Linked DNA regions of Homo sapiens: all the other regions are linked to region 2. Evidence: fine-mapped expression QTL. Tissue or cell type: testis. Region 2 holds a variant in brackets; each other region holds the start of a gene. All regions are shown on one strand. Distances are from middle to middle.

Evidence for each region. PIP is the estimated chance that this variant, and not a neighbour inherited with it, causes the effect.
Region 1: PODN starts here. The variant in region 2 is fine-mapped to the expression of PODN in testis (GTEx, PIP above 0.99).
Region 3: SLC1A7 starts here. The variant in region 2 is fine-mapped to the expression of SLC1A7 in testis (GTEx, PIP above 0.99).

The regions. Positions count from the first base shown.
Region 1 is chr1:53,059,022-53,067,021 of GRCh38, reverse strand. PODN (podocan) reads right to left here and starts at 4,809. Exons shown (of 11, transcript NM_153703.5): 1 at 4,714-4,809. RefSeq lists a silencer at 4,644-4,831.
Region 2 is chr1:53,111,777-53,119,776 of GRCh38, reverse strand. It overlaps SLC1A7 (solute carrier family 1 member 7), which reads left to right. Exons shown (of 11, transcript NM_006671.6): 3 at 4,804-5,019. It overlaps LOC105379783 (a long non-coding RNA gene), which reads right to left and starts at 4,948. Exons shown (of 4, transcript XR_007066089.1): 1 at 4,864-4,948; 2 at 4,197-4,465; 3 at 3,545-3,666; 4 at 1,156-1,381. RefSeq lists enhancers at 3,615-4,597, 7,934-8,000. The variant T/C (reference allele first, on the strand shown) is at 3,779.
Region 3 is chr1:53,138,941-53,146,940 of GRCh38, reverse strand. It overlaps SLC1A7 (solute carrier family 1 member 7), which reads left to right and starts at 4,303. Exons shown (of 11, transcript NM_006671.6): 1 at 4,303-4,626. The coding sequence starts at 4,492.

The DNA.
Region 1 (8,000 bases), 53 kb after region 2:
CATTAGCCACTTGCCCATCTGACCCCACTGTAGTCCGGGGTTCTAAGAGCGAGAGTGTGGGCACAGGCCCAGGTCCCAAATTCAATCAGGGCAGAAGGCCAAGGAGAAGAATCCAGGGGAAGGAGCTCTGGTCTCACATATCCTGTGCACATACCAGGCAGGCTGTTCTGCCTCCTCGCCTTCCATTTGGTATCTGTAAAAATCTGTAAACTGCATCAATAAAAATATTGAATTTATATTAACATTCTGCACCGTACTGAAAATGTTATCATCACCACTTTACAACTCAGGGAGCTGAGCCCAATGGGGTCAGCCAGTGAACAGCTGTTAAGTGGCAAAGCTGAGCTCCCAGCCCACGTCATATCAACAATGCTACGCTGCTCTCCCCTAGGCCAAGCATGACAGGAAGCAGGGGACCCAGACAGAAGACTCAGCGTGGCTTCTGCCCTTCAGAGGCCCACAGCTGCACCGTTCACTCCATTAGCCACTGGCCACATGTGGCTACTGGGCACTTGAAATGTGGCTGGTCCACATGGAGATGTAAGTGTAAAATGTAGTGTCCATAGATCTCAAAGATGTCGTACAAAAAAATAATGTAGGATACCTTATTAATATTAATATTAATGACATCAAATCCCATTTATTGTTATATTGATTACATGATAATATTTTGAACAGGTTAAATAAATGTTACCAGTTTCATTTTACTTTTTAAAATGTGGCTTCTGACTAGACAAGGTGGCTCATGCCTGTAAATCCCAGTGTGGGAGGCTGAGACAGGTAGATCACTTGAGCCCAGGAGTTTGAGACCAGCCTGGGCAAGATGGCGAAACTTCGTCTCTCTAAAAAATACAAAAAATTAGCCAGGTGAGATAGCATGCACCTGTAGTCTCAGCTACTCAGGAGGCTGAAGTGGGAGGATCACCTGAGCCCAGGAGGTTGAGGCTGCTGTGAGCCGTGATCGCACCCCTACACTCTAGCCTGGGTAACAGAGTGAGACCGTCTCAAAAAAAAAAAAAAAAAAAAGACCTCTAGAAAATTTTGCATTGCATATGTGGCTTGCATTTGTGGCTCACGTTACATTTCTATTGGACAGTGCTGGTCTGCAGCATTATGTATAAGCTGAGTATTATAATCCCATTCTAAGGGATGACTACCAGGCAAAAGGGAAAGGGTCATACAAGCAAGGGGGTCAATGTGTGCAAAGGCCCAGAGGCAAGACAGTTCACACTCACAAGACTGTCAGGTGGGGGATAGGGACTAGGAGTGATACAAAAAGGCACAGTCGCCACAAGCCCAGGCCACAAAGGAGAGACATGAAGGGCAGGTTAGGGAGTGTGGTCCTTATCACTGGAAGACGAGGACCACTGAAAGGCAGGAGCGTGACACAGGCAGGTTTGTGGGTGGACACGAGGGTGCGCAATTGGGACAGGTGAGGGCTAAGGGGCCTGCCCCTGGCAGAGAGAGAGGTGCTGGACTGCAGGAATGGAGGAAGAGGTAAGAAGGACAGACAGGGCTTGGAGAGTGGTCCCTCCAGCTTCGCCAGCCACTCTCAGGGCTGTGAGGCACTGGGAAGGTCCAGCCCTACTACCTGGTTTGCCGTGTGACCTTGGCCATACCACTGACCCATCTGAGTCTAAATTTTCCAACTTTCTTTTTTTTTTTTGAGACAGGGTCTCCCTCTGTTACCCAGGCTGGACTGCAGTAGCACAATCATGGCTCACTGCAGCCTTGGGCTCCTGGGCTCAGGTGATCCTCCCACCTCAGCCTCCCGAGTAGCTGAAACTACAGGCATGTGCCTCCACACCTGGCATCTGGCTAATTTTTTATTTTTAGAAATGGGGTCTCACTATGTTGCCCAGGCTGTTCTTGAACTTCTGGCCTTCTGCCTCGGCCTCCCAAAGTGCTGGGATTACAGGCATGAGCCACTGTACCCAGCCTTGCTCTTCTAAGAATGGAGCAAGATAAGCCCCCCAAGGCCCCTTCTGTGTACCCAGCCATGTGGGAGGTGTGTGGGGAAGAACAGGGGAGCTCCCTGGTCTCCAGGAGTTTCAAGTCCACCTGGTGAGGAACATCTCAAACCCCTGGACAGCGGGGAAGCTCAGCCAGCAGTGAGTGTTTCTCATATGGAGAGCTTTAGAGACAGAAGGGCATGGGTTCCAATTCTGACTGCTGTGTAAGCCTGGATGAGCCACTTTACTGCTCCGAGCCTCTGTTAACTAGTCTAAGAAATGGAGTTGGGAGCTACTTGTGAGAATTAAATGAAATAGCAGTCTCAGCCTGTCACCGCTGGCATCAAATAGGTGTGACATACCAGGGGTTACTGTTACTGAGAAAGTAAGTGGGACCCACTGTCTCCCCTGACCACTACCAGGGAACCAAACCTCAAGGCCCAAAGTGTGAGGTTAAGGTAGGACTAGAAGAAGGAAGGGAAAGGGAGCCCCAAATCAAGAGGCGGATCCTCAGCCCTCAGCACTACCTTCCTTCTCCACTCAAAGTCAGTACAAATCAACTGACCACCTGCTCTGTGCTGGGCCCCAAACAGCTGCATCTTATTGACTCTAATAGAAATCCTGGGACTACATGTTCGTCTTTCTATTCTGCAGATTTGGAGCTCAAGCACAAAGGGCTGGCATTGCTGCCCATCCCTAGAAAGCTCCTGCTGAAATGCCCCTGCTCAGGGAAGCCTCTCCTGCCCCCTTGGCTGGGTTAGGGTGTTTCTGGGTGCTTCCACAGCAACCTTGGCTGGCTTTATCCTTCAAGTCTCAGCTGGGCCTCCCCTGTCTCCCCAAGCATGGAGTGGGGGTGCTGGGGAAATGTTTGCTGAATGAACGACTTTGTGAAAGGCAGAGTTGGAAAAGATCTAAAGATCTGCAGTATGATCTGCTCTGACTCCCCCAGTTTGCAAATTAGTGTGTTAAAGCCAAGGCCAAGAGTAAAATGTGGGTCTTCTGACTCCTGCCCAGAGCCTTGAGTTGGCCTTGAAGACTGAGCGGGAGTTCTCCAAGTGGACGGAGTGGGAGAAACAGCCCTCCAGGCAGAGGTAGAGTGTGATCAAAAGGTAGGGGTGGGGCTAGAGGAGAGGGACGTGTGTTTAAGGAAGGGTCAACAGGGCGGGAGGCCTGGGTGGCCAAGGGCCTCCACCGCCATGCTAGTGTTGGTGATAGGGACTCATTAAGGGTTCCAAGCAGGACACGGCCAGCACTCGCATGTATGACTACACCAAGCCTAAAAGTGCCACCATTAGTAATCCCCTATCCTAGACTCAGACAGAAGGGATAAAGTGTGCTCCCACAGATGACATGAAAACAGTCGTGTGACTCTGACATTTCTTAACTTGCACTCTAGGCTAGAGTAGACTGGGTCTTGGGCCCTAAGAGTGGACATGAGGGAGCAGAACCCCCAGAGCAGTCCCCCCTGGTCTTTCCCAGGGCAGTCCACGGGCTCTTCTGAGTGACCTACCTCGGAATGCTGTGCGCCTGCAGATCAGCCGGCCTCCTTGCTCACCATGAGCCCTCCTGCCTCGCCGCTGCCTTCCCAGTGTGGAAGGTTTCTATATAAAGGAGGGATAGGGGACGGGACCACCCAGGGGCTCTCCCGGTTCACACCAGTGGCGCCTCGTGGAGCAGGGCAGACCACAGCTTCCCCTTCCCTGGCCAGCCGGTAATCGAAGGGCAGACAGGTCAGTAATTCACTCCAAGCGCTGGGTGAGCATCCTCCGCGCCTCCCGGACCAGCTCAGTCAGTGCCGCGCGCACCGGGGCCGGGGTGCTCGCCCCTTGCTGCCGCGCCTGCTCCTCTCCAAAAGGCTGCGGCTGCCTCTCCTAGCCCCAGCCCCCGAGGCTGCCAGGAGCCTCGCAGCCCCGCCACCACCTCCTCTTCCACCTGACGGAGCGTCAGGTATTCCAACGCCAAGATCTCGTCCCCCGCCCCAGGCCGGGCTGTGGCTCGGGGACCTGGAACCTGGGGCTTCTGCCTCATTCGCAGGAAGGCGCGGATCTCGCTCCTCGCGCTTCGCGGACCCCCACCCCTTCCTCCCTCCAGCTGTCCCGGCTGGGAAGCAGCCGCGTAGACAGATAGACGGACTCCAGACCGCCAGCTGAGACCTTTAGCTCAACTAGTGGTTGGCACTAAGCTGGGGCGGCACAGTGGCCGGGGAAGCCGAGCCCCGGAGGGGACCCACCCGGCGTCCGACGCGCCCTGGGGCCAGACCTCTGCCCCTCTCTGGGCCTCAGTTTCTCTATCTATAAAGAGGTGGAGGTTGGAGTCGCTAGGGGGCCTGATGAGTTGACGTGGAAAGACGCGGGGATACTTCGGGCCCAGGCTCTCATGACAGGGGTCCCCGCCCCTACGCAGTTCCACCTGCCCCCCACATTCCCTGTCGCCCGCCGGCGTCCTCCCACTCCAGCCCCCGCCCCCAACCGCCCTCAGATTCTTTCCAGATGTGCGCAGCGGGAGGGGCCTGGGGACGGGGACCAGCCTCTGCTCAGAGAGGAGAAGGCCCCTGCCTGGGTCCTGACTGCGCAGGGGTCGCACTCCAGAGGAGGAGATCTCCGGCCGTGCCCTGGGTGCAGGGTCCTACAGAGGGGGTGAGATGCGGCGGGCCCGCCCCAGGCAGCTGCTGGAGCCATCCGGAGAGGCGGGGACGTCTGAGTGCGCTGCCCGGGCTCAGCCCCCGGCCCCTCGGCCCACCCCGGCTGCCAGCGCCCTGTACCTGCTGCGCCCCGGCGCCGAGCGGCGCCCCACAGGCCGAACGCGCTCCCCCAGTCTCAGCTGCGCTCCGCGGGCTCGGGCTCCTTCCATTCAAGTCAAGCTGGGCGCTCTCCGCGACGCAAGTTTTGTTGTGGGTTTTCTCCTCCCCGCCTCTCTCCCGCCCCCTTCCCCCACTCCCCACCCGCCCCGGGAGCATCTGCTGGACGCCGGCCTCCTTCGGACACAGGCGTAGGGTCCCCCCAGGCGCGGGCAGGAGAAAGCCTGCCCCTCCCCGCTCGGGACTTGGCCGGTTCCCACTTCCCGGGGAGGCAGAGCCGCCGCACCGACCCCTCTCAGCCCCGGCCGCCGCACCACGCCCCCCGAACCCCCACCCGGGAGACCGGGAAGGCGGGCTGTCTGGTCCGCGACGCTTCCTAGTTCCCAGCCTTCCGCACTGGAACTGGACCCCCTTTAGGCCCCGACACCTGAAAGGAGGGCTGGGGAGAGGGGTCCTTCGACCCAGTGCCTCTGAGCTGTATCTTCCTCATTACAGAGGATGTTGCAACCGCTCCAGGCACGAGTACCTTTCCGTTCACTCTCCCACCCTGGGGTCCTGGGCCGTGGCTAATGGGGCCGCCAGCCAAGACCCTGCTGGGCCTCTTCCCGGAAAAGTTCCCCACGCTCCACCCCACCCTCCACTCCCATCCCTGTTGGCCCTGGGCCCACAGCCTGGTGAGCCTTGAAGAATGGTAAATTGGGCCGGAGTCGGGGACATGCAGATCCCAGTCACAGAGAAACAGGGCGGGTGAACAGTGAGACCTCACACCACCATATTGCTCCCAGGAACTGAAAATGTTTCCAAGTAAAGGAGTATTAACTACTACCAGCTGAAGCAACACTGTTTGGCGCCAGGGGCTTCGGCGGTGGAACAGGCAATGCGGCTGGGCTTAGGTGGTACTTGGCACCTCCACTGTGTAGCAAGCCTCCTCCCCTTACCTGCTCTGGCCTGTGGGCAGGGCATCCACAGCTGCCTCACCTGGCTGTCCTCCCACTGAAGAGGGAGAAGGATGCATAAGTCACACGTGGGACCCCTTGCTCAACCTTAACCTGAATGAATGAATGAATGAATGGCCCCTGTAAAGCAGCTCCAGACTTTTCACTGGCTGCCGCCCCCGTGAGGTTATACCATATGCATTATGCTCTGCTTCACAACTCCGCAAAGGAAGAACTGCTGCTGCCCCACTTTATAGAAAAGAGATGGCCTCAGAAAGGATACTTGACTGAGTAAAATGCCCATTCACTGGCAGAGCTGGGGTTTTGACCCCAGGTTTACCCTTCTCCACAGCCCAAGTTCTTCCCATGATGGAAACAGGCAGGTAACTTGAGCAGGCAAATGTAGAGTCTAGATTTGAACCCAGGACTGTCTGTTTCCATTACACCAACAACCCAAGAACTTAGCAAGAATGGGGAGGGAAAATATTTTGCCTTCTTTGGCCTCAAATTCCAGTCCTTTTGGAGCTCAAACTCACAAGAGTTGGTGTGATTCACAGCATTGGACCTGGACCAACAGAGATGCATCTCGTGTCTTCTCCTGAACATTGAGCCTAGATTCAAGTAGAGCTAAAAGGACAGGATTCTACTAGCTTGAATACTCATGGACTAAAAATCTTTTAGGACAATGAGAGCCAGCACATATTGAGTGCCTAATAAATGACAGGCACCATCCTAAATCCTTAAAATATCTTAATCATCCTAGCCCTGTGGGGAAGATATTCTCTATACTTATAACTGCTAAGGCCAAGGTGTTTCAGGGGCCCGCTACACGGCACACCACACACCCAGTACCCACCACCTCCCAGAGAAATAGGCTTTTCTATGGAATGCTGAGCAAATGCCCATGTGTGCTTTGTGGTTGGCTGCTACTATAGATACAAGCTGCAGGAGGAATCACTTTGAGTGTCTCTGGTGGAAAAATGGAGGCAACCTTGGTGCTCTAGAAGCAAATCCTCTTTCAGAAGGATTGTAAAGGCAGAGTTTGAAATTGAGGTTTCCTGAATCTACTTGTGCTGCTTCAATTCCTTCATGCTGCCCCTCAATTTCAGCTCCTGTTTGATATTACTGAAGTACATAGTGTCAAGTACAAGCTTTAAGCTTGGAGCTGGGTTCAAATCCTAGCTAGGTTCAAATGAATATAAAAATAGTACCTACACTTCACAGTATGTCTAAATTGGAGAATGCAAGTACAGAACTTTACATAGTACCTGTCACATGGTAAGTGCTCAGTAAATGGTAGCTATTACTGCAAAACTATCACCCAGACCTGACCAAATAGCCAGGAAACATTATTAAAATAGAAATGACAAGTGGCAAGAATTAAACAGTAACCTCTGTACTGCCCAGGGAAAGTGCCTTCTAATTCAAAACAATAAGAAACAAGAACACTCCAAAGAGGAGGGAGGAAAGACATACATTGATACGGTAGAGAGAGCTAGGAGTAAAGAACAAGAAGGCTCTCAGTGGGGTTTGATGATGAGAAACAGGAGATGAGGAACAATGAGCTCTTGTTATGCCTCATCATCAAAGAAGAAAATAATTCCTCCTACTTTGAGCTGAGGGCTGAGATCTTATTAAGCAGTAGAGTCCCAAATAGCTATGGCAGCAGCTTGATTTTCTGGACATTTAAGGAATCAAATCACATGGTGGTGTTTGGGGTATATGAATTCCATCTGAAGGACCTTGATGAAGGCAAGACTCTCCAGGGAACAAGAAGAGAATAATGAAAAATCTTCAGTCCAAGTCAAGTACACAAGGAGTCTCCTGGGCTGCTATAACATCTCATACAGACTCTTTATTATTGGAACTTTCTTGCTGTTTTTCCTCTTTCTCCCACTGGATTGTGAGTCCTCCAGGGCAAGAATCTCATGTTCTGCAAGCTCTCCTCTCTCACCCTAAAATACCACTGTGATAGGCAGAATACCCCCCAACCCCGCCCCAAAGATATCCACACCTTAATCCCTAAAACCTTTGGATATGTTACATGATGAAAGTGACTTTGCAGATGTAACTAAGGTTACGGACTTCAAAATAGGGAGCATATTCTGGATTACCCTGGTGGGCCTAATCACATGAGCCCTAAAAAACAGAGAACTTTCTCTAGCTGGAGAGAGAGAAGATGAAGCAGAAGAGGAGGTCAGAGAGATTTGAAACATCAGAAGGACTTGACTAGCTTTAAAGATGAAGAGGGTCATAAGCTAGGGAATAAGGCAGCCTCTAGAAAGTGAAACACCCGTAGGCTGCCAGGAATGGTAC
Region 2 (8,000 bases):
GGATGCCTCCAACAATGGGAAGCTCACCACCACAAATCTGAGGCTCATTACCAAGGGCAGGCTGTGAACTCCGAGATTGAACTAAAATGGCTTTACATGGGCTGGATCACATTAAAATCATAGTCAGCTGGGCTGGGTGGCTCACACCTGTAATCCCAGCACTTTGGGAGGTGAAGACAGGAGGATCATTTGGGCTCAGGAGTTCCAGACCAGATTGGGCATCATCAAGATACCCCCATCTCTACTAAAAATTTTTAAAAATTAGCCAGGCATGGTGTCGAGTGCCTGTAGTCCCAGCTACTTGGGAGGCTGATGTGAGAGAATCATTTGAGCCTAGGAGGTCAAGGCTGCAGTGAGCCATGATCGTGCCACTGAGCCCCAGCCTGGGCAACAGAGTGAAACCCTGTTTCAAAGAATTAATAAAAAATAAAATCATAGCCCAAACCAGATCTTTTCCCCCACCACCAGAGTTAAACCAGGTTTGTGCCACAGACAGGCACTGTGGGAGTGGGAACCCCACAAGGTTCTGAATCAGAAATCCCTGTTCCAATCTTGACATTATGGTTCACCAACTGGAGGGCCTGGCCAGTTGCCTCCATCTCCCTGTGCTCCATTTTCCCCATCTGTAACTCAGAACTATTGTATTGGGCTGTCCAATACAACAGCCACGAGTCAGAGGAGGCCTCTGAGACCCAAAAGCAGGCAGTGCAACTGAGGAACTGAACTTTTATTTAATTTAATTTAAAATTTAAAACCTGAAGCAATATAAATTTTTTTTTGAAACGGAGTTTCACTCTTGTTGCTCAGGATGGAGTGCAATGGCGTGGCCTCAGCTCACTGCAACCTCTGCCTCCCAGGTTCAAGCGATTCTCCTGCCTCAGCCTCCCAAGAAGCTAGGATTACAGGCATGCGCCACCACACCTGGCTAATTTTGTATTTTTAGTAGAGATGGGGCTTCACCGTGTTGGTCAGGCTGGTCTCGAACTCCTGACCTCAGGTGATCCACCTGTCTCAGCCTCCCAAAGTGCTGGGATTATAGGCATGAGCCACCGTGCCTGGCCTAAAAATTTTTATATTGATGACATATTGAAATGATAATATTTGGGATAAACTAGGTTAAATAAAGTATTAAACTTAATTTCACCAAAAAACTAATTTCACCTGTTTCTTTTTACTTTTTAATGTGACCACTAGAAAATTCTAAATTACAAATGTGGCTCGCAGTGGAACTCCACAGTGCTTCACTCAGAAGGTTAAGGATCCACTGGGCTGGGTGTTCAGGTGTCTGGGGAACAGTAAAGTCCCAGAGAGATGATGGCTTCTGAGGCTGCTGGGTCCTCCAGGAGGTGTCATCTCCATCACACAAGAAGACGGGCTCAATCTAGAAAGAATAGAGAATGTGAAGGACTATTCGAAACAAAACAAAAATTACTTATAACACCCAAAGATAATAATTACATTTCCTATAGAGTTTGCTTGTTTCCGTGCCCGTCCACGCGACCTGGTCTCCCACCACCACTGGGCACCAGCTGCAAGTTCTCAGAAAAGTCACCTTTAACAGCTTGACCTTGAAGCCTGGGACCTTGAGGAGCCTCAGCAGGGAGGAATCCCTCAAAAAGCCAAAGGGCAGGGCCTTACACCTCCTTTCTGTGCCTGTGAGCTCTGAGTGGAAGCCACGACCTCTGCATGCCCAGCTCCCATTCTTCTTGGCCTCCGCCCTCACCTGCGGTGGCCCTGGCACTCCGGGGGAGGCTGGCCTGTGCTGCCAGCTGTCACCAGCAGTTCCCGCGGCTGCTCACCTCTCCCTTCCGCCATTTGTGGGAAGGGAGGGAGGCTCCAGCACAGAACGACTTGGGTCCCAGGATTCTCTCCATTTCGTCCATGGGTGCTCTCCTGTCCAGAGCTGATGGGGGCCCCAGGGTGGGGTCAGGGATCCCTCTTGCTCTGTCTAAAACCTACACTCCCTCCCACATCTCAATCTGTCCCTGAGTTGGCGCCACCCCCGTGTTAGGCCTCTTCGTCCCCGGTGGGGGGCCTTCTGAGGGGCCTTTATCCTTTCCTGAAATCCAGTCCTCACCTGCACCCCACTCCACACAATCCCTCAGACACATCTATGTGCCTAGACTGCAAATCTGGAGGGAGTCCACCATCCCAGGAGGTTCCAGGGCTCACTGCAGAGATGCAAACAATCTGGTAACTTGCTTTTCCACTTAGCATTGATTTAGGAACACCCTTCCAGGGACACGATCACTCCGGATGGCTGCTATACCGTCCCTTCCTATCTAATCTGCATTGGTGAGTTCTTAGGTCAGGTTTTTGATCTTACAAGTACTACTTCAGTGACCCTCCCAGTACACCATGTGTACTTTGATCTTCTCAAATGGAAGGAATTTTTCGTTCTCCCTTCTAGACATCCAGCAAATTCTGCTGCCTGAGTTGTGCTGAAGTGCCACAAGGCCACCCTACTCCTGAGCTCAGCCTATCTTCTCTATCCCTTCTATCACCAATCTGTCACTAACCCTCAGATATTACCTGAGCTCGGGCCACATCGAACAGCACGGTGTCTCACACTTTCCAGCCTCCCTTCTGCCTTCCACTGTCTCACTGCTGCGCATGTCTGCCCCATCTCCAAATCCTCTCCCATTTCCAAGAGCCAGGTCAAATGCCACCTCCTCCAGGGAGCCCTTCCTGACTTTCCTAGCTCGAAGTGATTCCCCCTTCTCTGAACAAAGACAGCATTTCCTTGTCCCCGCTTCCCTTGCGGTTCTGATGCTCCCACATAGTCCAGGGGCCATTTGAGTGCACTTGTGGCCCAGTGTCCTTTCCTTCTCCCTCCCCATTCCCTGGCAGATTAGGAACTCCTTGAGGTCAGGGACAGGTTCTGATTTCTTCCTGTGGGCACAGGGCATGGCACGGAGTGGGCATGTGCGAAAGGTTTGAATGCACGTGAATGAAGGAGGACAGGCCTGGGTCTGGCCCTGAGTTCTGGCCCAGCCGGGCACTGCTGTCCTGTGTGACCTCAGGCAGGGCCTGCTCTCGGGTACATGGCTTCCCTGTGGCCTGAGGCGGCTGGACCCCACTGCGGGGGGTTCTGTCATGGTGGGAGGACTGTTTGGCCCTGGGTTGACGCACCGGCCCTGCGTGGGATAATCTCTCTTTGATGATGATTGCAGGGCAGCCCCCCATTTCCTCTGGCTGCACAATCCCATTATGAGCCCTTCAGGATTTATGTCTAAGACCCACCCTAAGCCCATCACTAACATATGGCATCCTGGCAGATGAGGATGAGCAGAGATTGTAAACACTCATTCATTCATTCACTCACTCCTTCACTCAGCAGTCTGCTACCAAACTGCGGACCCAGCATTCAATCAGAACCTGGCCCAACCCTGGAGGTGCTTCCAGTAAAGAGTCCGCAGTCCAGTGAGGTGGGGGCAGGGACAGTGGGAGGCACAGGGACTGTGGAGCCAGAGAAGGAGGCTTCACTCAGCCTGGTGGTCAGAGACGGCTTCCTGCAAGAGGGGATGCTCAAAGTGTGTCTTACCAGAAGAGTAAGCCATTGCGCCAGCGAGCAGGCAGGGCAGGGCCCTCACAGGCGGTGGCTCCCGCTGGGGGAGGGGGCCGGTGTTCACGCTCAGCCTGGGGCTGGATGCTGCTGCATGGAATCTAATGATAAGAGGAGCGTGGCTGGGGATTATCTGCTCTTGTTTACATGATTAAAACCAGACAAATACTTCTTTATCTGAAAGAATGAAAGGGCTTTGGGGAAAAATCCTTT[T/C]GTCAACAAAGCAAAGCACAAGCATTTCCTTAATTAATCTCACTTCACCCCACACCCCCCACCGTCCCACACCCCCCACAATGGCTGCAAGAAGCGTTGCTCTAGGGCTCCAGGGCTCCAGGGCTCCAGGACGCCAGTACTCTGGGGCTGACCTGCACTGGTAGGCAGAAAGCCCAGGCCAGGGTGGCTAGGGGTGGGGAGGAGCCGAGAGGAGAGAGACCCACAGCCCTCTCAACACAGCCCCCTGTGACAAGGAGCCTGGGCCCAGGCACAAACCCAAGATGTCCCCATTTTACAGATGGAGATCCTGAGGCCCAAAGATGGGGAAGTGACTTGCTTGCCTGAGGCCACACAGCCAGTTGGCAGAGCTGGGACTAGGACCTGGGTCACCAGCCCCCAGCCCAGCGCTCTCACTCACTCCTCATTAGCTCGTCCAGGAGCCCGCAGGAACCGCCTGCGGTGCCGTCCTCTCGGGACCCACAGGGAAGTCAGACTCATCCCTCCTCTCACAAACAGACAGGCAGCGTCCTGATGGAGCAGCCAGGGGCTGTGGGGGTCCTAGAATGGGCTCCTCACTCTGGGGGAGAGGCAGGTAGATCTCAGAGGTAGACCAAGCTTGGTCCTGCCTGGCTGGGCAGGGGTCAGGAGAGTGAAGGAAGCTTCTGAGAGGACACCAAGCATGGGAAACTTGAGGCAACAAAGTAAAGCACACGCATTTCCTTAATTAATCTCTCACTCCCCCAACAGTGTCCCCACCATCCCACAGCCACCCTGGCCTGGGCTCTCTGCCTAGCAGTGCAGAGGTCTCAAGGCACAGATGTGTGTGGCCTGCGCCCCGGGGCGTGGGGGAGAGGGCAGAGCAGAAAGAGAGGCTGGAAGGAGCACAGGACTGGATTGTTGGAAGAATGGGGTTCCCTGGAGCACTGTGAGGCAGCTGGACATGGCCAGGAGGGGCTGAGTGAGCGCTGAGTGCCAGCCAGGCCCTGGCCTCCCCACCACAGCCCCTGACCCCCTCGCCCTCCCAGCTTGATGTCCGGACTTGCCTCCCTGGATGCCAAGACCTCTAGCCGCCTGGGCGTCCTCACCGTGGCGTACTACCTGTGGACCACCTTCATGGCTGTCATCGTGGGCATCTTCATGGTCTCCATCATCCACCCAGGCAGCGCGGCCCAGAAGGAGACCACGGAGCAGAGTGGGAAGCCCATCATGAGCTCAGCCGATGCCCTGTTGGACCTCATCCGGTAACTATTGCCACCCACACCCCGCTTGGGAACGCCAGGCCCGAGCCTGCCCTGCCAGGTCCCCCAGAGGCCAGGACGGGGTGTGGAGATGGGGGTGATCACGGAGTCCATGATCACCCTGGTGGGTTGAGCTCTGGGCTGCCCGCTGGGCTCATGCTGCATCGTCTGCCCCACCAGGCTAGAAGCACCTTGCAGCCTGGACGGGGTCTGCCCCTCTCTGCCTGTGGATGGGCGCAGAGCAGACATCTGTGAGCATTTGCTGATGCCCAGCCTGTAGGGTGGGAGGCTGGCTGTTATTGGCCCCTCCCTTTGTTTATTGGTCCTCTTTTTACAGATGAGGAAATGGGGCTCAAAAAGGTGCCGTGACTTTTCCAGAGTCACCGGTAGGTAGGTAGTGGAGACAGGATTCAACCTAGTCCTGTCTGACTCCAAGGACAATGCCCTTTGCCCTGTGGTGCCACCCCCTAGCAATGGCAGTGCCACATCCTAGCCACAGCAGTGCAGCTAACCTTGCTTCTCAGACCTAGGCTCCCTCTCCAGGGAAGCACTGCAGACCCAGCGGCACAGCCACCTTCCACTCCCTTTCCCCGGGTCCCCTGCAGGTCACCCCTGCTCCTGTCCTTCGTGCATTCGCTCCCTCACCAGTGCCAGTTCTGTGCCAGGCCCTGGACCAGGGGACTCAGAGCCAGCCCTTGCCCTGGAGGAGTGGTCAGACCCACGAGCAGACAGGGACAACATGGGGGCCTGGGGCTGCAATGGGGAAGCTGGGGCTGCCGGTGAGAGCAGGAAGCCACTGCCCTTCTAAGGGAGGGGAAGATGGGGAGGCAGGGAGGGCAGGCCTGGGGGCGATAGCTGTGCGAAGGTCCTGAGCTGCAGGGAACCGTCTGCGGGGAGAAGGCATAGCACCATCAGTGTGACACAGCAGAAGGGGTGAGAGGCAGGCAGAAACCCCTGCTGGAGAATTCAGGTGGGGACCGGCCTCAAAGTGCACCGTGAACCAGGCCAAAAGCTAAGTTGCATCCTAAAGGCCACAGAAAATGAGTTTTATACAGAGAAGCGGCATGATCCAATTCAGAAGGTTCAATCTGACCAGGGATCAGAGTTGCAGGGGAGGTAGGAGGGGAAGGCAGAGCCAGGGACAGGGCCAAGTGGTGGCCCTGGGGATGGGGAAGGGGGCAGATGGCAGGGCTGCTCAGGAGGGATCCTTAGCAGGAGGTGGGTGAGTAGGAGGTGAGGTGTGCTGATCACCCAGCATGAAGATTTCTGGCCCACGCATCCAAGTGGATGGTGGTGTGGTCACCAAGCGATGGATGGTCTGGAGCAGGTGCAGGCATCCTGGGGTAGGTGTCAACTGATGGTTGGCCAGTGGATGAGAATCTCATGGGGGAGTCTAAGCTGGAGACGGAGGTTTGGAAATCGCCAGGGAGAGGTGTTAGGTGCTACCCTAGTGGCAGAGGGGCTCTTGCAGGACAGGTGGTGAGAGAGCAGGGATTGGGATGGAGCCTGGGAAGCCCCACCCAGGAATGGTGTGCTGGGCTCCACAGGCTACCCCACTAAGCCCGCTCAGGGAACACCTTCTAGTACCTCTCACTTCCTGGTCAATTTCAGATCTAAGAAGTCTAGGCCTAACATTAAAACTCCAAACTCCTGCAGTTTAAACTAAGCCTGTCTTAGCCTTTTGGATCTGACTCAGACTGGGAAAGCTGCAGTGGGAAGAGGGTCGTGGTGAGTTTGTTTCTCTTTCCTGCTCTGCCTGCTCCCTGGTGAGAGGTGAGGGAGTGGGCTAGGAAGGGCTGCCCAGACTGGGAGAGGGGTGAGCTGGAGCAGGTGCTCCCTCGTTGTGTCTCTCCAGGACTACTTCTATGGGTTCTCTGGAGCCCCTCTTCTCTCTCGCATCTCTCACCTGCTGTCCCCTGGACTCAGGCAATTTATTCCATCTGGCTACTTACAACATCCCCTAGACCAGGGCTCTGGTTGACTCCTCTGCTGGGGTCACCTCACCCCTCTGGGTGACCCTGTTGGGTCATGTCTGGCCCATGGGAAGCATACATATCCCTATTGGAAGTGCTGGCCTTTCCCAGGGCCTTTGGACATGAGTCAGGCACCAGCCCCTACATTCCTCAAATTCTAAGAGACTCAAGCCAAGGTCTCTGAATAGTTCTCTTGGCTTAAGGTTGTGGAGAAGCATTCCTTTCCTCCCCCGTGGGGATAGATGCCCATACACAGGCTCCCACCCACTGTCTAAAGAAACTCTCGTTCCCTGTATCAGCTAGTTACTGCTGCATAACAAACCAACCCAACATTTATCAGCTTAAAACAACAGCCACAAGTCTATAGGTCAGCTGGAAAGTTCTGCTGGTTTGGACTGAGCTCACTCACATGTCTGCAGGCAGCTGGTGGCTCAACTGGGGAACAGTTGGTCTAGGGGAGTCTGGCTGAGATGATTCAGCTATACTCTGTGATCTTTGTACTCCAGCAGGCCAGCCTAGATTTGTTTCATGGTGGCGACAGGATTCCAGGAGAGAGCTAGCCCAGGCATTTTTTTTAATAACAAAGGTAGAGGAGCAAGAGAGGAAATCAAAACATGCAAATGTTTCTCAAGCCTCTGCTTTCAGCAAGTCCACTAATACCCTCTTGGCCAAAGCAAGTCAGGTGGCCAAGCCCAGACTCAGGGTGGGAAGGGACCACAATGTTACAAGGGAAATGGAGTCTACAAACCGAGGCCATCGATGCAATCAGTCTACCACTCCCTTCATTTCTCCAGGAAGATCTTCAGCTTCTCTTTTACCCTTTAGAGTGTGTGATGAACTAAGGATCATCAAATATTTGCCATGCTGTTCCTATCGCGTGGCTGTCACCTATAGGGTCTGGAGCCAGAAAGAGATCCAGGCAGGGTCTGTTCTGTGTTTGCTTACTTGGCTGGCAAGACTTCATCCAATACCAGGGCTTTGAACACCTTCTGGACTCTGGCACTTCCGAAT
Region 3 (8,000 bases), 27 kb before region 2:
GCTGGTCTGAAACTCCCGGGCTCAAGCCATCTTCCCACCTCAGCCTCCCAAAGTGCTGGGATTACAGGCATGAACCTCTGGGCCTGGTCCTATTTAATTTTGATTAATTTCAATTTAAGTAGTGTAATGGATGCTATGTAATTGTACTGCACAGACTTAGAGCCCCCAGGCTTGACTGACCCAGTGAATGTGGAGGGGTCCCTGGCTCCCCCTGGTCAGGGCCCTTCTAGGTGAAGGTGTCAGAGTACCCAGCCAGAGCCTGGTACACAGTCGGTGCTCAACACAGAGCGGCTCAGGGGCTTATGGGCGCCCAGGCCTCATTTCCATTAAGTGACAGATTTAGACGGGGGACTGGAAGGGAAAAAGGAAGGCGTGTGTCTGAGTTGCCACCACAGAGTCACTTTCTCCCATCCTCTGAGGCAAATGTGGGAAAGGACTAGCCCTCAGCGAGGTCAGGACAGCCCCTCGGTGACTAAAGCTCGCAGGAATCCACACCCAGCTGGATCAGCTGCATTTGTTGCCCACAGAAAACCTTCCCGGAAGGGCCCAGCTTCCAGCGAGCTGGGAAGACGTGTCAGGGAGATTAAGGCGCCTCTGGTATGTCTCTGGAAAGCAGCCAACATACCCCGAGCTGTCGTCACGACAGACCCAGATGGGAGCTCACCCGGCCAGACCTAAACTCATTTTGACACATGGTGGAAGGTGTAAGGCCCCAGCCCCGATGGCCACTGCAGCCCACCGATGCACTGCTAGCCCTGGGAGGCCCTGCTGTCACGCCTCCGGCCTAAATCAGACTGTCGTCTCCCCTCTCCCTTGACCAGCACCCCCTTCCCTGGCTTATTGAGGCCTCTGCCTAAACCACGTCTCCTCTGGGAAGCCTTCCTATCCCCGCCTTCCCAGGCTGGGTTGGCCCTGCCTGTAGCCCTGGCGAATCATTAATCATTAATCATTAGCAAATAAGTCAACCCCTGCTGCTCTCCCCACAGCATAACCCAAGCAGAGGGCCCGGTGAAGAACAGCTCAACTGCACACCTGCTTCTGCAGGGTGAGGCAGCTGCACCTGTGACTTGGCGTTCATTTTCGCCAACACCATGTCTCTTCTTTGCCATAGCATCTCAGTCTGTCCAGCTCAAGCCTCCCCAGAAGCATCTCTGAGGCCGCCTGCTGCCCATTATACAACACCTTGCTCCTCAGGCTATCCCTAGCACCCCGCTGCCCCTGCCAATATACCCTCCAACTTTGAGGATTCTCCATTGAGGTGATTTCAAATGACATGGTAACAAACAGAGATTTGATTTTATTTTCATAGATTCTTATTTCCTTGTCAGAGCCACTTAAAAGGGAGCTAGGTGAATCCCCAGCTGGTGACTGTGAAGGGCCTGAGTTAGAGTGAGAAAAAGAGAAGGTATTGTATCTAGGGTAATCAGGGAAGGCTTCGAAGAAGAGGGGGATTTAACCTGTAACTTTCGTGACAAGGAAGGACATTCTAGGCCAAGGAAATAGCACAGGCAAAGGTGCAGAAGCCTGAGACAGGATGCAGCGTTCCAGGACCCTGCAGTGGTTTGGTGTCATAGGAGCTGGAGGGGTGACGGAAGGAGTAGGAGGTAATGCTGAAAGGGTGAGGAAAAGGGTGAAAGTGCCTTGCAGGGGAGCATAGACTCGATGCTGCAGACCGGGGTTTCCCAGGCGTGTTCTCCAAACACCAGGCCCAGGGAGTTCTCTGCTCCAGAGGAGGGGTGGGATTCTCTATTCTCCACTTGGTGACTTCCTCCGACACAGCCGCTACTGTAAAGACTTTCATAGTAACTACCTGGGGCTATCTGCAAGGCACTGGGCCACGCTCTAACCATGGCGCATGCAGCACTGTATGACCCACATCAAAACCCTATGATCTAGGTACTGTTGCATTATCCCCATTTTACAGGGAAGTTAAGAAATGTTCCCAAGGTCACACAGCTGGTTGAAGGTAGAGCTGAGGTTTTAACTCTAGCAGTCTGACTTTGAGCTGTCTCAGAGGAAATAACGTGCTTAACTTTTTGTTTCGTCCAGCATTTCCCAAACTTCCTTTTGATGTAATTATGGAAAAATTGTCTTGCACATCTAGTGACATTGTAAAAGGCAGTTGATTCTTTGTCAATGGTGAACTATTATAGGGTTCTGACCCAGGAGACTTGATTTGATTTGCAAATATTCTTAGTAAACTCATTATCAGTCACTTACACTTTAGTGTGAATTAGTCCGTTCTTGGGGTCTCTCCACTTTCTTATAAGCTTCCTGAAGGCAGGGCAGGTACTGTCTGATTCACTGTTGTGTTTCTAGTACCCAGGGGGTGTGGCACACTAAATGGTGCTATAAGAACATTTGCTAGAGTGAGTTGAAATTCTCCTGTTGAAGACCGTAGGAACAGTGGAAAGAATGGCTGTAGTCTGGTAGGCAGGTAGTGGTAGGCTCAGCCTGTGGGAGAGAGGAGTCAGTGGTGGCTATAGGGCACGTCCTGGGAATGGGAGTCATGGAGCTGTGGTAGAAAGCAAGACTCACCTATATCATGGCACAGCTAAAGGCCAGGTCTGGGCTGGGTGTGGTGGCTCATGCCTGCAGTCCCAACACGTTAGGAGGCCAAGATGGGAGGATTGTTTGAGCCCAGGAGTTGATCAAAACCCAAATCCAAATACCTACTTAGCATATTTTCTCTTCTGGGAAGTAACTAACCACCTGATTATTTGGAAAATGAGGCATTTGTTGGAGTTGAAGGTGTAGCAAGAAACTTTTGGTTTTAAGAGTCAAAGTCAGAGGAAAAAAAACTCTCAGACTTGTATTCACCCCCACCCCCCACCCCAAGCTACTGCAAAGAGCAGGGGCTTTGGAAGATTGGTTTGTTGAAATGAAGTTCCTTTGACAAAGGTACCTGGGCCCATTTCTCTCATTCTAAAAAGGACAAGACTGATACCCAGAGACGGCAAGGTCACAGAGCTGATTAAATTGGGATCAGAATCTTCTCAGTCAGGAGCTCTGTCCATGGCTTCAGAGCCTGTGCCCCAGTCCCCTCTCCCCACCTCTCCCCTATGCCCCACTTGGCCCGTCCTCTTCATCCTCTGCCCCTGTCTCCTATGTCAGGAGGAGGAAGCCCCTGTGTGCACCCCACCCTTTACCTCCCACCCTCACTGCAGACTGCACTTCCCATTCCCTGCTGCCTGCTGCCTGACTGCTCCTAATGAGATTACAGATCTCTGGTGAAATAGACGAGGGTTAATTCCCCCAGGCTTTACAGGGCAGGGCAGGCCAGGCCACAAGAAATAGCAAAAAGACACCTATTCTCCAAAGCACTAAGTGTGATAATGACCCTAAGAGTCCGTTCCCCTGTTCAGCACACCAGGGTTCACACTGCGTTTCCAAATACCCTCTGGGTGGAATTTTGTACCAGCCCTAACAAAGTAGATGCTGTTATCATCTCTATTTTACAGATGGAGAAACTGAGGCACAGTGAGATGAAATGCTTGTCTGAGGTCACACAGCTAGTAAGTGGCAGAGCTGGGACCCGAATGTGGGTCTCTTGGGCTCTGTCATCTTTAAAAAATAATAGGCCCAGAGAGCCTGCAGGGTGCCCAGCACCAGGCTTGAAACAGCCCTGAAGCATCTACGTCCCATTTCCCGGTGAGTGGCACAGCCCACCTTTGAACTCAGGTCCCCTGGACTCGAATCTACATTCCCCACAATACTGCCAAGCACCCTTGAACCTATCTGCCTGTTCATGTGGTGGAAACAGACTGGCCTAGCCCTGACTTCTGACCTCTGTGACCATGGCCAAGGGACTGGCTTCTGGGGTCTCAGCCTCCCTTTCTGAAAAATGAAGGTGGGAACCCTGGGATCTTTGGGACAATTCCCTATGATTGGCATAGCTAAGGCAGCCAGCACAGGCCTGGCCCGCAGCACATGCACCCACCCACCTCAGTTTCTTTATCTGTAAAATGGTGATATTAATAGTACTTATTTCTTGGGATTGGTGTTAGGATTAAATATGCCAGTACATGTAACACTCTTCTAGAATGGCACCTGGTGCATAGTAAATGCTTAATTAATGTTGAGGGAAACTGATATCTTACTGTCTTGTTTTTGATTCTTTCTGGAAGGAAGCAGGGGTAAAGATCAAACCAACCAAGCAAATGTTCCTCTTGTTCCTTCCAGTACCTGGTCCACTCAACTGTTTAAGAGGAACGCTTGGCTTTGAGGCCTGAACTCCTAGACCACGTGGTCTGCTCTAATTTCCCAGGCCCTAATCTGCTCCCAGCTCCTAATGATGCAGCTGGTAATAGGATTGTGGCTTCCCTCTAAGGCGGCCACACGGGCATGGCCGTGGGGCTGGCGACTGGTGTTTAGCAACTCCGACCACCTGCCTGCTGAGGGGCTAGAGCCCTCAGCCCAGACCCTGTGCCCCCGGCCGGGCTCTCATGCGTGGAATGGTGCTGTGCCCCTTGCCAGCAGGCCAGGCTCACCATGGTGCCGCATGCCATCTTGGCACGGGGGAGGGACGTGTGCAGGCGGAATGGACTCCTCATCCTGTCTGTGCTGTCTGTCATCGTGGGCTGCCTCCTCGGCTTCTTCTTGAGGACCCGGCGCCTCTCACCACAGGTCAGCCACCCAGAGCATCTCGGGACCCCTGTCCAGGAGGGGCGTGTGGGCCTGAGGGATCTGGGGTCCCGTTCTAGCATCACAGCTCCCTGGTGCCATGACAGTGTGTGAATCCCTCTGCCTCTCTGGGTCCTGGTTTTCTCATCTGTAACATGGGTGTGATAAACACTTTGCAGGACTAGAGGGAAGAACCAGTGATGTGGCTGGGGAGTGATTACAAACCCAGCACCATCAGGTGAGGAGAGGCGAGGGTGCCTCATGATGACAAACACAGGGCCAAGAGCTGTGGCGGGGAAAGAGGGGGGTCTTGTGTGAGTTCAAACAGGCACCAGAGAACACCTCCTAAAGGCTGCTCAAATGACAAGAGATCCAGGAAGCGTGCTCTAGGCAGAGGTGACAGCAGATGCCAGGTGCAGCGGCCGGAGCGCAGAGGCCAGCAGGCCCATAGGTCCCATCGCCACACGTGGGCTTGCGGCAACCATGAGATGCTTTTGGGCAGAAGAGCGACAGGCCAGTTTGGAGCTTGGGAGACCCCTCAGGTGCTGAGTGGAGAGGGGGTGATTCTGGGGCAGGCAGGGGGCCGAGAAGGGGCAGCCTGGGGGAGATGCGGCAGTGCAGACAAAAGGGACAGACGTGAGAACTGTTTTCAAAAGGGGGAGCTTCAGGATGTGGGGGCCGATTGGATGTGGGCTGGGGGACAGGAAGGGGAGCCAGGCCCCGGGTTTCCAGCCTGTGTAACTGCCATGAAGAAGCTGCGTTTCCTGGGAAAGAGCCCCTTTCCCTGTCAGCCCCCATCTCCTACAGGAGAGGGAGGGACATTCCCATGGTGTTAAGGACAAAATCATTCTGCCACTAGTTAAACTGGTAAGGAAGGCTCTATTCAGGACTATTGTGGTAGGGGGGTAGTTATCAAGACCTCCTGGGGAGAGAGATGGGACCCAACCACAAATACAACAAAGATGGCTGGAGATTTATAGCCAGCGAGCAGAGGGAGGGGGTCGGGGACAGAAAATGACTACAGGAGACATCAGGGTAGGGGGATTCTTGTTGAAGGCAGGCCAGGGTGATCAGACATTGATCTGGGATGAGGAATTTGATCCAGTATCAGGATGCTGGAGGGTGAGGGATCCTCACTAAACTGACTTGGCAGGACTTTTGCTACAGCTGGACTATGCAGGCTGAAGACAAGGCCCAAGGACAAAGCCCAGTGGAAAAGAGGGCTCAGAGGAGCCTGTCTAAAGTGTGGTCAAGGAGAGAGGCTTTGTCAATGGGCTCCTGGAAGAGTCCCTATTCCCAGAAAGTCCTCTTCCCGCAGCTCACTAATGTCTAATGCCATCTCTACAACTGGGGTCAGGCATTAGACTTTGTCTTCCATTAAAAGGAAAACACCCACTCCTGGAGAACTGAGCCACGACTATAGTGACCCTGTTAAGCCTCGAGCAGTTATTTAGGAAGAAGCATGGACTCTGGAGGCAGAGAAACCCTGAACTTTGACTCTGCTAGCAAATGGCTAGGCAATATCCTCTCTCCTCCCTGGGCCTCAGTTTCCTTGTCTGTAAAATGGGATGTGGGGCAGTATATGTCTACTAGAATTATTATGAGGAATAAACCAAGGATTCATCAATGCCCAGCATACAGTAGGTGCTTACTACGTGTTACTTCCCCCTCCCTCCCTTATGTACCTGTTAAAGTCCTATCTACATCAGGAACCATCTCATCATCCATAGCTGATGAAAGTAACTGTAACCCCGCTGCTGGCTGCCTGGCTTCAGAGCTGGTTATATGGGTGTCTCTTTCTCCCACCAAGCTGCATATTGCTGAACAACATATGGGTTTGTTTTTTTTTTTAACCAAAACGTGAGCCTAGCCCTGTGTCAGGCACAGAGAGAACGCTCAACTATCTGCTGCATTAAACTGGCAATGGAACAAAAAAATCTGCAATCTGTTCTCTTTAATTTTCCTCAGCAACAAAAATATATCTCCTGCAGGAAGATTATTTTGTGAAAACAAATTGGAATGCCTATTATTAAAAGCCAAACTCATCTGGGGCCTACTTTGCCAAAGCTGCCTTTCCCATCTGTTTGGAAATGCAAATGTATTCCAGTCTGGATTAACCTGCCAGATAAATTGAAGGAAGGATGTAGAGGCTTAGAACAATTATTTGGCAGAAACTGGCTTTCTCAGCATCTTACTTTGAAATCTGGGATTTCTCTGTTTGATCTCTTTGCCTGTGACTCAGAAACTAAACACTTCTTGTTTTGTAAGCTTATGCAACAGGCAAAAATCATAAACAATATGGAAAATGGTAGAATGTTCTATTTGTGAAAAAGAACTTTTATCCTTGATAAAATCACAGGATTTTATCTTGGTGTATGAGTGTCTCATTTAAAAATACTGAGCATTTTGAGACTTCCAGTTAAACCATGGTGAATCACAGGTGTATCCATTTTTTTCCCTCCTTCCTAGAATTCCACTAACATTTTAGTAATGGGATTTTTAAAAGGTAAAACCACCAAGAATAAAGAGAATATAAAAGGAGACAGTTGAGAAAAAGAAATAGAGAGGCTACAACAAATTAGATAATATGGAGGTGGGTGGAGCTGATGACCTCATTCACAGAAAGCTGGAATCTTAGTCTGTGGAAGTTGATACCAAGTCAGTTTGTCTTGCAGACTCCAGAACGTAACAGAGCAAGATGCTGCACTAGGCAGGGTGAGGCTGGGGTTGAAAGCCTGGGCATGGTTTGGAGTTTTGTAACCAGAGCAGTTAGACCCCTAGGGACCTTCCAATTCAGTTGGGGGACTCATCCACCCATCTCCACCCACTGCCTGCCCCAAGGAACCAGAGAAGCTGGACTTGAGGGTATTGGGCCACCCCTGTGTGTGTTGGGGAGAGGGCCATGCTGAGGCACCTACTTCAAACTAATTAACAGACATCCTTGTCTGAGTGGGGTCCCCAGCACGGTTTCAGATCGCTGTCAGCTGAGCTTAGGCACCATGTCATTCCTCAGCCAAAGGCAGGAAGAGACTTCTCTCACTGAGGCCTCAGAGAAAAGATCTCTAAATTCTGCTATAAAGGAGACTCCTCTACCATCCCACCCAGCCCCAGTGAAAAAGCCAGATCAGCACCTGTCACCCTGCCCTGAGGGCCGTCAGTTGACAAACCCTACTCATACATGCAGAAGTTTAGCGCTTCAAACTTACATACGAGCAGAAAGCCACGCCACCAGAAATGTGAGGAGGCTCCTAATGTGAAACAGAGTAAACGAAGAGAAAAGGGGGTCTCTAATGAGAGAAACAAAGAGAAAAGTGGGTCTCTAGTGAAGCAGAGACAAGGCGGGGAGGAGAAGGAAGCTTTGTAAATCTCCTCTTAAG